Linked DNA regions of Homo sapiens. The protein of the gene in region 1 interacts with the protein of each later gene in a pairwise test. Each region holds a gene or a part of one and is shown in the gene's direction. Other genes may lie near its edges. The genes, in order: SLC22A23, PTTG1IP and CBLIF.

Region 1 (3,747 bases):
GCCCCTGTATGATGAAATGGAGAAATCCGGTAATGTCCAGTCAGAAAATCTGGGTTCAAAACCAGATATTTGGCTCAGCTGGGGACCAACTCTTTGATCTGGTAGTCAGTCACCTGATCCTTGCTGTTTCTCTTTGAAAGCCCACTTCTTGGGGCGCTGAATGTGAGGACTGAGTGAGAGTGTGAATTTGAAAGCCAACTCTGAAACGCTGGCTATGATAGTTATTCTGATTGGAAGGGCCATTAAGGTCAATGGCAATGCTCCTTTTGTGATCAGTTACAAGAAAACAAATGGGTCCTTGTGACTGTGGGGGAAGGGAGGCAGAGCCAGACACAAAGTGGACCTCTTCTGGAAAATCAGCCACTGAAAGGAAAATAAATAAAATCCGTAAAGTTATATTTCAATTCAAAAAGAAATGTGGATTGTATGTAATGGCAAGAGGAGCACTGGTAATAATACATGTCTAACATTCATTGCGCACTTACTCTGTTCCAGGCATGGAGGTCAGAACTTTGCATGTATTAGCTCTTCAAATGAGGGGAGGAGAGGGAAGGAAAAGAAAAGTTAAGCTAATAAATAATGTGAAGTTGAAAAATTACCACGTACACAACGTGCACTATCGTGTCCCCCCCCGCCCCAAGCCCCCAGCTCTTTATATATGTGGTTTCCAGACCCATTTCTCAGCGGTCTGGTGTCTTTTGCAGCCCTTAGGGCCCCTTCCGCCCATTGTTATCTAATCACCCCTTCTCGGCCACGCAGGAAGGTCCACAACCTCCCCTGTCCCCCAAGACCCGCCCCCCGGCAGCCTTCAGAAATAGTTCTCTGGTACGTATGTGCCAGCATTTTATGCAGTAAACACATGTTGCCCTTAACACTGAACTGCAGGTTAAAAATGTATTCCACTAAATTGTGCAGCGGTTAGCTGAGCAAATAATGAAAATGCAAAAGAATACATTCAGTATATGGAGCTTAGAATATATCCTTTTGGAAAGCTAAACATTTTTTTTTTTTTTGCCCCAAATAAGACTAGAAATGGATTGCTCCATTTAAGACTTCCATTAATAAACTTCTCAGAATATGAAATGCCTCCAAAATGTGGGGACGCTGGGTTGAAAGGTGCCGGATAATTCTCTTTGGTGCGTGCGCTGGGTGCAGGAGGAAATATGCTAATGTAGCCGTTTGCCGCAGGGCTGGTGTTATTTATACAGCGCTGGCTGGGCAAGGTTGGCGCTGGAGCAGGAGAGGAGGGAGAGGTTTGTCTTCTTGTGTGAGAGTATAGATGTGTGCGCCTGTGCACACGGCGTTCCAAACGTGAATACAAGATCTTAGGGAGGGGGTGGGGAATGCCATCACGTTTATACTGTGTGTATTATAACTTGTGTTGGAGATATATCCCAGCATCGTGCTTACATCGCATGCACTTAGGAGTGGGGGAAGAAATGGCGATTTGGGAGTGGGTGCGGCGGGTCGCAGGTGGCCAGACACTGCGGGGGACTGGCGACCTGAAATTGGCAAAGGCGCCTCCTTGACCCTGCTCCACGGACACAAAAATCAACCTTATTCGCTCCTGGAAAAAGCGCAGAGGGTTGTTCCCGAAGGCTGAAGACCCTCGGGCTTGGGACTGGGAGCGGGGCGCGGGCAGCGGGACCGCCGGGCACCTCTGAAGAGACAGAGGTCACGGAGACCTGGCGCGCGCGGAGTGGGTGGGGGGCCCGCGCGGCTGCGGGAGCCCAGCCTCAGAGAAGACCCGGCCCACACGTTCTCAGCGCACGCCGACTTTGCCGGGACCCGTCGCCGGCCGGCGACCCCTGCTACGCGCGTCTCCTCCTCCCCCGCCCCGCCCGGCGCGAAACGGGCAACGGGCAGGGGATCCTCCAGCCAGGCGGGCCCGGGGTGTCCCGTTTCCCCCGCCCCCCTCCCGTGGATCCCGGGCGGCGGCGGCCGCGCGTCCGGGCTGGAGGGGGCGCTCGCGAGCAGGAGCCGAGCGCAGCAGGTGCCGCGGTTACCTCCACCTCGGCGGGGGGAGAGGGGGCGGGCCGGGGGGCAGGGAGGAGGGGGAGGAGGAGGAGGAGGAGGAGGAGTGGGGCCGGCTCCAGGAGCTGGAGAGCGCGGCCGGCTCGGCAGGCTGGGTCCAGAGCTCGCGGCTTCCGGGAGGCGCCCGAAGTCGGAGAAATACAGCGCGGCCACCCCGGGAGCAGCAGCCTTTGCCCGCACCGCCGCCCGCAGGGCCCTGAACCGCCGGCAAGGGCGCGGGCCGGGCGCGGCGCCGGCTCCTCCTCCTGCCGCGTCCGGCGCGGAGCAGCGGAGAGCGGCGGGCTCGGCAGCCGGCGCCCGGGCCGCGGAACTGATGAGCCGCGGCGGCTGAGGGCCCGGCCGGCCTCTGCCCGCCTCTGCCCGGCGCCCGAGCGGGGCCGCAGCGCCCGGGGCGCGGGGTCCGGCGGGTGACATGGGGGCGGCCTGACGCACCCGGAGCCGCCGAGCGCTCTCTCTCGAGCCGCGGGCCCTCCTCGGCGGCAGCGGCTGCAGGCGCCTGGCCCGGCGCGCTGTGCCCGGGGCGCCCGCGGAGCCTCCGCCGCGCTCTATGCGCCTCTGCGGGAGCCGCGGGCCCGGGCCATGGCCATAGACCGGCGGCGCGAGGCGGCGGGCGGCGGGCCTGGGCGGCAGCCGGCCCCGGCCGAGGAGAACGGCTCCCTGCCGCCCGGGGACGCGGCGGCCTCGGCGCCCCTCGGGGGACGCGCGGGCCCCGGCGGCGGCGCGGAGATCCAGCCGCTGCCCCCACTGCATCCTGGAGGCGGCCCGCACCCGAGCTGCTGCTCCGCGGCTGCGGCCCCGAGCCTCTTGTTGCTGGACTATGACGGGTCGGTGCTGCCCTTCCTCGGGGGCCTGGGCGGGGGCTATCAGAAGACCCTCGTGCTGCTCACCTGGATCCCGGCGCTGTTCATCGGCTTCAGCCAGTTCTCGGACTCGTTCCTCCTGGACCAGCCCAACTTCTGGTGCCGCGGGGCCGGCAAAGGCACCGAGCTGGCAGGGGTCACCACCACAGGCCGGGGCGGGGACATGGGCAACTGGACCAGCCTCCCCACCACCCCCTTCGCCACTGCCCCCTGGGAGGCTGCGGGCAACCGGAGCAACAGCAGCGGCGCGGACGGAGGCGACACACCACCCCTGCCATCCCCTCCGGACAAGGGGGACAACGCCTCCAACTGTGACTGCCGCGCATGGGACTACGGCATCCGCGCCGGCCTCGTCCAGAACGTGGTCAGCAAGGTAAGGGCCGCAGCCGCCCAGTCCCTCCAACCCTCTCCCTGCAGACCGAGGTCCAAGCCCGAGCCAGCGGGAGAACCGAAGTCCCCAAAGTGGTGGTGCTAGAGTGTGTGTAGGGCATTCCGCATTGGCTTAATCTCCTTCCGTCCCCCAAACCACATGCCTTTACTTGGGTGTAAAGGGAGCACCATAGCCTTTACTAGTTTGCACCCAAACTCCTGTCCCAGTACGCGGATGGAAAGCGCGCCCTTCCCCCACCCTCGGGGCGAGGCAGCTGACCTGTCACCAGCCCCCTCTGGAGGAGTCGGACTGGCGTCGTTCAAGGTCTGCTGGGGGAGTCGGGACCACAGCCCTGTTCTGCCCGGCTAGTTGTCCCTGGGTCTCCCACAAAGCAATAGTCTTCCATCTCGCACTTGATTTTGACACAGGTAAAGCCTACTAAAGAACTGGAGAGCCAGAGAAGCAAAGACTCCTGCAAATCCC
Region 2 (3,747 bases), on another chromosome or scaffold:
ATCAGGCTTAACCTCCATTTCTGTGAGTTTAGAATGTCTTACGAGAGTCTGAGTATGTAGCTTGGAATTTTGGTTAGTTAACTTTTCTCAGGCTTGAAATACCTTTTCAAACTCAGCTGAGACAGACTACCCTGTCACTTCAGTTCATTATGGTTAATATTATAAATTGTTAATAAATTCTAAGTCACAGATAGGAACGTGTGGCTGAAAGGAGACTTGGAGAGGGCGGGACCCTGTGGGGTGGAGGCAGGGCCACAGGCTCTCCACACGCCAGGAGCCAGCAGCCTGGCCGAGGCGGCTTTCCTCCTTATGCTCCTGTGTCCTGAGGTTGTTCCCCAGGGGCGAGGGAAGGCTGCTGTGCTGGGTGGGTTCTGTGTCTGGGGCGGCCCTAACTCCAGGTGCTTGAATCTCCAGTGAACTTTGAGGCGCTGATCATCACCATGTCGGTAGTCGGGGGAACCCTCCTCCTGGGCATTGCCATCTGCTGCTGCTGCTGCTGCAGGAGGAAGAGGAGCCGGAAGCCGGACAGGAGTGAGGAGAAGGCCATGCGTGAGCGGGAGGAGAGGCGGATACGGCAGGAGGAACGGTGAGGTGGTGGTGATGCCCGCTGGGAAGGTTACTTCGAGGGGATTCAGATCTGCAAGGCCATGGAAATCACATGGATACATCCTGAGTTTTCCTCAGTTTTTAGAAATTAAGAATGTGTATAGTGCCCAGGGGATCTTCTAGGTCGTGGTAGAGAGCGAGAGACTGTGATGGGAACCTAGCAGTGGCTGCGAACCTTGCTTCTATAGGCTTCCTCGCCCGGTGTCCTCCCATCGGTGCAGTAAGGCTGAGTCTGTGCGCGGTGACACGGGTGTGTGACGGCTGCTAAGGCGGCTCGTCCAGGCCCAGCATTTGCCAAGAGCAAGCTGAGGCTCAGAGGGGACAGCGTCTGACTGTGGCTGGGTCAGCTCTCCTGTCGCCCTTTCCCTGGTGACACAGCACTCTCCTGAGTGCTTGCTGGGGCTCTGGGGCAACCCCAGGAGGAGGTGGTGTAATCCACACCTGGCAAAGGAGAGGACCTGAGGGGCCAACTGTCAGGTTGGCGGCGGGCGAGGGTGGAAGCGGGACAGATTTTCCATGTAGTCACCTTGAAGTCACATGCTACTAAGTAAAAGCTGACAATCGCATTTTCCTCACCATCTTCAGAACCTGGTGTATGATTTTTACTGTGTTTTCTTTGTATGAAAAAAGCTTTTTAAAAATCACGGTATTGGGCATTTGAATTGCTTTTATTGAAAAGAGTAGAGTAATACATTGGAACGGCCTTTGAAGACTGGGTTCGTTGTCACCTTGCCTGTCCTGGTGGGTATGTGGCCTGATGACCAAGCTTGTCCTCACCCTGGTTTCACTCTGGGAACTGGAGGGAAGCCACCAGAAGAAACCTGGCGCCCCCACTGAGGGACACGGAAGGGCGTGTCTAGCAGTTACACCACCGTGCGCTGTCGTTTGGTGCTCATAATGTTCCTCTGTGTTTTAGGAGAGCAGAGATGAAGACAAGACATGATGAAATCAGAAAAAAATATGGTAAGGACTGGTCACGCCTCCTTTTTGTCTGGTTGGGAGGCGATGGCACGCTGTCTCGGTCCTCGTTAGTGCCAGTGTGGCCTGAGATGGGGCTGTGGGTTCACCCATCGGAACAGAAGGACGTCTCTCCAGAGAGGAGCAGCTGGCGGTTGTCCCCAGCGGTTCTGTGGTGAACTCACTCCTAAGAATATCTTTATCTCAGCCAGTCGTCTTCATGAAGTCTGTTTTCTCAGATAGCTGTTTGCTTATCGAGTCCCAAGACTTCTGGGCTGGAAGTCTGCAGCTGTTCTGCCGTCGTGTTTGGCTTCCTGTGGGCACGCCTGCGTAGCCGAGGTGCTGTGAGTTTCAGGGCGGCCCTCTCATCCTCGGGAGCGTTGCTCGTTGCCATCTTCTGAGTGTGGCAGGCGCTCCTTCCAAGCACTCCCCAGCACCGGCCCTGCTCCTTCTCGCCCAGCCTCGGCGTTCTGTTCTTGTTTGGTTGTGTCTGGAGAGATTTTGGAGAGGAGCTTTGAAGGAGCCAGAATGAATGTATTTGCCAAGTGTAAACCTTTTATTTAGTTGGAGTGAATTGGAAATACACATTACGTTATCTATACTCCCCCAAACCACGTGATGTTCACTGCTTAACACTGAACACCACCACCCAGCCGTGCTTCGTTGATTCTGTATGATTTTAAAGTCCGCAAAGAGTCTAGTGTCTCCCGCGCTGGGTTTGTGGTTGTGTGGTGTCATGGGCGTCTCCCGCGCTGGGTTTGTGGTTGTGTGGCGTCATGGACATGGTGGGAACTGACTCCTCGCCTGTGCGAGGTGCGTGGTCCTGGGTTCATGGCAGCCGTGGGCCTCAGGAATCTGTCGTCCTGCGCCCACGGTGCTTTCCTTGAAGCAGTATATTAAAGGCTAAACCTAATTGGAAAATTTCAGAGCCTTTTCTGACTAATGCACGTGTTTTGAGTCTTCTGTTTGTTTTAGGGAATATCATATATTTGTGGTATTTTAGGGTCCCACCCACTGGGGGCATGAGGACGTCGCTGCGGTTCTCGGTCATCGGGTGGGGGGTGGACGGCAAAGCCCAGCAGCCACTGTGAGCGGCGCCTCCGTCAGGTGCAGGTGATTGGCGTTGGGTTCCCTCTCATGGGGGCTGCAGAGGCCCCATGCTGCTGGTGCCCTGGACTGTAAACGCTGGGTGGCTCTGCCCACTGGCCGGGACGTCCCCTCCCTGTCAGTTCTGGCCTCCTTGGAAAGTCACCTCCATGTGACTGTGCTGTGACCTGAGGCCACGTGAGTCCTGCCGGTCTCGAAGTGTCGGCTTGGGGGCGTGAGGCTGCCTTGGCTGCTGGCCTCGAGATGCCCAGTGGCTGATAGAGGCTTTTTCCTATGTGTTCCCGCCCATCAGTCTCCTGAGTGCCGTGTGCTTGGGCGCTGACTCTCTGGGTTCTCTTCACTGCTGCCTTGTCCTTGCCCCACCCTCTCTGTCGCCTGTTGTTTCCCGGTGTGTGTCTGGAGTGGGTGGTGACCGGGTACCTGCGTGTGACTGTCATAAGGAGCAGCACCAGGGTTGCCCTCCTCAGCGAGTGCATGCCTGTGTACGTGGAGCGTGGGCCCAGCAGCATCTCTGCAGGCCTTGGCTGGAGGCATTGTGCTTTCCTTGAAATGGAAGAGTCAAGAGCTTTTTGGCACCTAATTTTTTTTTTTTTTTTTTTTTGAGACGGAGTCTCACCTTGTCGCCCAGGCTGGAGTGCAGTGGCGCGATGTCAGCTCACTGCAAGCTCTGCCTCCCAGGTTCACACCATTCTTCTGCCTCAGCCTCCTGAGTAGCTGGGACTACAGGTGCCCACCACTACGCCCAGCTAATTTTTTGTATTTTTTAGTAGAGATGGGGTTTCACTGTGTTAGCCAGGATGGTCTCAATCTCCTGACCTCGTGATCCGCCCGCCTCGGCCTCCCAGAGTGCTGGGATTATAGGCATGAGCCACCACACCCAGCCAGACTAATGTTAATGTAAATAAAAGACAAGGTGGATACACACACACGCACACGCGCACACACGCACACACTGCCCAGCACCTGTTATCACCAAGCACAAGCTGTGTTTAAGTTGCTCGACCTTTACTGTGCCCTGACTCCCAGCGGGTGTGAGGCTGTGGGTGGCCGGCCAGGCTCTTGGAGTGGTGTCTTCTG
Region 3 (3,747 bases), on another chromosome or scaffold:
TAACATGTTCACAAGTTCCAGGGATTAGGGCATGGGCATTTGGCGGTGTGTGGGCAGTGCCATTATTCTGCCTCCTACTCCTTCACACAGCATGCAAGGCTGTCCACCAAGTAGATGCCAACTGTCTTTCCAGCCTCATCTTCCACCATGTACCATGTATTGGATATATATTGCTGCATAACAAGTGACTTTAAAACTTAGGGGCCTAAGACAACATTTATTATCCCACAGTTTCTGTGGGTCAGGAGTCCAGGGAGGGTTTACATGGGTCCTCTGGCTTAGGAGGGTCTCTCCCAGGGCTGCAATCAAGATGTCAGCTGGGGCTGCCTTCATCTCAAAGCTCACTGGGGAAGGGTTCTTTTCTCCCTGAATATCGGCTGGAGGCTACTCTCAGGGGCCATATGTGGGCTTCTCCATAAGGCAGCTCACACTTAGCAGCTGCCTTCATGAGAGCAGGAAGGGCAAGAGAGAGAAGGCAAGCAAGAGGGAAATCGGTCTTTTGCAACCACATCCCATCACCTTTGCTGCATTATATTCATTATAATAGAATGTGGCCCCAGGCCAGCCCACACTCTAGGGAAGAGGACTACACAAGGCATGAATACCGGGAGGTGAAAACACAGGGCCATGTTAGAAGTTGTCCAGCACACCCCAGTATGTACCCTGTGCTCTCATCTCACAAAACTCACCCATGTTTCCCAAGGGGGAAAAAATGCTTTATTACCCATGTCTTACATTTGCTCATTAATTCACTCATTCAAAAAGTATTTTATTTCTACTGTGAGCTAGGTAGTGTTGTAAGGGCTAAGGATAGAGCAGTGAGCCAAAGAGACAAAGCCCCTCCCTCGTGGAGCAGACATTCTAGTAGGGAGATAAACAAACGATAAACAACCACACACTTAGTGCGACAGAGGGCAATGAGTTATAGCAGGCGAGGGGCATGAGGGGTGTCAGTGGAGGTGAGGATGTAGGATCTTATGTAGGGTGGCCTGGGAAGGCGTCTCTAAAAGCTTACCTCTGAGCAGAGACATGAAGGATGTGAGGAAGCCACCATGAGGCTATTTAAAAGAAGAGGGTCCTGGGCTGAGGGGGACATCATGTGCAAAGGTAGCTGATGTGTTCAAGGGGCACAAGAAGTTCTGTGTGATGGGAGCGGTGTGAGCAAAGGGGAAAACGCCTGGAGCTGAGGTCAGAAAGGAAACCAGGAGCCAGATCTTCTAAGGTCTTATAGGTCATGAAAAGGGCTTTGACTTTTATGCTAAGATGGGCGCCACTGGAGAATATCCCCTTAAAATGAGCTACTTTACATGCAGGAAAAAAACAAACAAAACTCCTTTCTTTATAATTTCAACATACCATTTTCAGTTCTCCCTTATAAAGAAGTATAATTTGCATTATAATGTAGCTACACATCTGAAATATGTATTCTTAATGGATCTCACATTTTCTAATTACTTACTTTAAAAGATAATATCTGAAAGCTTTGGGTGTTTGAGATGGCTTTTATCTCCAGATAAGGAAAGAGAAATCAAACAAAACCATTTCTGGGAAACCGAGGTCCATTTCTTGCCTAAAGTCAAACAACTTCAAAGAGTCTAGGCTAGAATCCAGGTCCAGGTAGACATCATTAATTTCACAAAGCCAGATGTCACCTGGCAGATCCCTGCCTGAGAGCCTAAAAGGACATGTTGTAAAGCAGGTGTCTAGGATCATAAAATGAGCTGATGCCTATGAATGGCCTAAATCCCAGTGAAGTAGTTACTAAAAAGCAGCCTGGTAACTGATTGGATACAATAAGGGCTAGAAGAGGTCTTGTTGATACTAGCACATTATCCAAACTTCCTGATGTCTGACCCAGGCCTTTGGTAAAGGACATTTTCTCAACATTGCCTTCACTGCATACCCAGCCCCAGGTTTCTCATATGACTGTGCAACCTAGAAGTCACCTTCAGACACCTTGGAGGGTCTATAGTCGGTAAACTTAGATAAGCAAATGAAAATTTACTTACTTGTATCAGGAAAGGAGAGGTCAGCACAGGGGCAGTTAGGAGAGGCTGGGTTGGGGACAGATTATTTAACAAAGGGAAGCACATATAAGAGAAGGTAAAGAAATATTCCACTTGCAAATCGCGGTACCTGTGGATGAGAGACATAGACGAGAGAGTGAGATGGCCTGGTTTGCCCTCTACCTCCTGAGCCTTCTCTGGGCTACAGCTGGGACTAGTACCCAGACCCAGAGTTCATGCTGTGAGTATGATGTTTTTCCAAGGAGGTCAGGGAAGCAGTTGCCCTGGGGAAGGGGCTGTGACCTCTGACACTGAGTGGTTGAAAATAGCAATCACTATAGGAATTCCAAAATGGGTAAGTCTGAGTGTGATTGTGTGCTGTTCATCCTTCCTGACTTAATAGCATAAGTTCTTTGAGAGACAAGTCTATATGTTTTTTATTAAGAGAGATGGGGCCAGGTGCAGTGGCTCACACCTGTAATCCCAGCACTTTGGGAGACTGAAGCAGGAGGATTGCTTGAGCCCAAGAGTTCAAGACCAGCCTGGGCAACATGGTGAGACTCCATCTCTACAAAAAAAATAAATAAATAAAAATAAAAAATTAGCTGGGCGCAGTGGCATGCACCTGTGGTCCCAGCTACTCAGAAAGCTGAGGTAGGAGAATCGCTTGAGCCCAGGAGGTCGAGGCTGCAGTGAGCTATAATCACACCACTGCACTCCAGCCTAGATGACACAGCAGCACCCTGTCTCAAAAAATCAATAAATAAAAATAATAGAGATGGAAGTACTACTGCAGGAATAATGGTTGATGGTACAAAGACAGACACTCAGTGGCTATTGTGACCAGACACCACTACATACTAGTGAGAGATTTTGGTACTCACTGAGGATAAATTATATCCCAAATCTTTAATACTCTTCATGAAAGAGTAAGGAAAAAAATGAATGCAAGGAAATCAGTGATTTCCAGGAAAGTGATAGAAACTATGAGAAATGTCATGAGCCATATTGCTTGAAGTTACTAAATTTAAAAATCACTTTCTTAAGGATATGGATTATTTGAGAAGATGTAGAAACTAATTGTCCTCAAAAGTAAAATCTCACCATTTTCTCCATTTCTCTTTAGTGACTTAGGACACTAATGCTAATCAAGTGTTCTCCTAAAAGGCATCAAAGATGGCCAGGCGAGGTGGCTCACGCCTGTAATCCCAGCACTTTGGGAGGCCAAGAAGGGTGGATTACCTGAGGTCAGAAATTCGAGACTACCCTGGCCAACATGGTGAAACCCCATCTCTACTAAAAATACAAAAATTAGCCTGGCGTGGTGGTGCACACCTGTAATCCCAGCTACTCAGGAAGCTGAGGCAGGAGAATCACTTGAACCTGGGAGGCAGAGTTTGCAGTGAGCCGAGATCGTGCCATTGCACTCTAGCCTGGGCAACAAGAGTAACACTGTCTCAAAAAAAAAAGAAAGAAAGAAAAAGCATCAAAGACACGGGGATAATGTTTTTGAGAAGGAATGAGGGTTAGAAGGTGAGTAAATGGCTTTCCTCTTCTCAGCCGTTCCCTCAGCACAGGAGCCCTTGGTCAATGGAATACAAGTACTCATGGAGAACTCGGTGACTTCATCAGCCTACCCAAACCCCAGCATCCTGATTGCCATGAATCTGGCCGGAGCCTACAACTTGAAGGCCCAGAAGCTCCTGACTTACCAGCTCATGTCCAGCGACAACAACGGTGA

The links.
Region 2: the proteins of SLC22A23 (region 1) and PTTG1IP interact in binary tests that used the Homo sapiens proteins (3 or more experiments, as listed by UniProt).
Region 3: the proteins of SLC22A23 (region 1) and CBLIF interact in binary tests that used the Homo sapiens proteins (3 or more experiments, as listed by UniProt).

Annotation. Positions count from the first base shown.
Region 1 is NC_000006.12:3,455,426-3,459,172, reverse strand, and holds the start of SLC22A23 (solute carrier family 22 member 23), read left to right. Parts: upstream 1-2,122; 5' UTR 2,123-2,613; coding exon 2,614-3,267; exon of another isoform or gene 3,268-3,470; intron 3,471-3,747.
Region 2 is NC_000021.9:44,853,032-44,856,778, reverse strand, and holds part of PTTG1IP (pituitary tumor-transforming gene 1 protein-interacting protein isoform 1 precursor), read left to right. Parts: intron 1-414; coding exon 415-586; intron 587-1,522; coding exon 1,523-1,569; intron 1,570-3,747. UniProt on the Homo sapiens protein: May facilitate PTTG1 nuclear translocation.
Region 3 is NC_000011.10:59,843,875-59,847,621, reverse strand, and holds the start of CBLIF (cobalamin binding intrinsic factor precursor), read left to right. Parts: upstream 1-2,122; 5' UTR 2,123-2,168; coding exon 2,169-2,247; intron 2,248-3,566; coding exon 3,567-3,743; intron 3,744-3,747. UniProt on the Homo sapiens protein: Promotes absorption of the essential vitamin cobalamin (Cbl) in the ileum. After interaction with CUBN, the CBLIF-cobalamin complex is internalized via receptor-mediated endocytosis.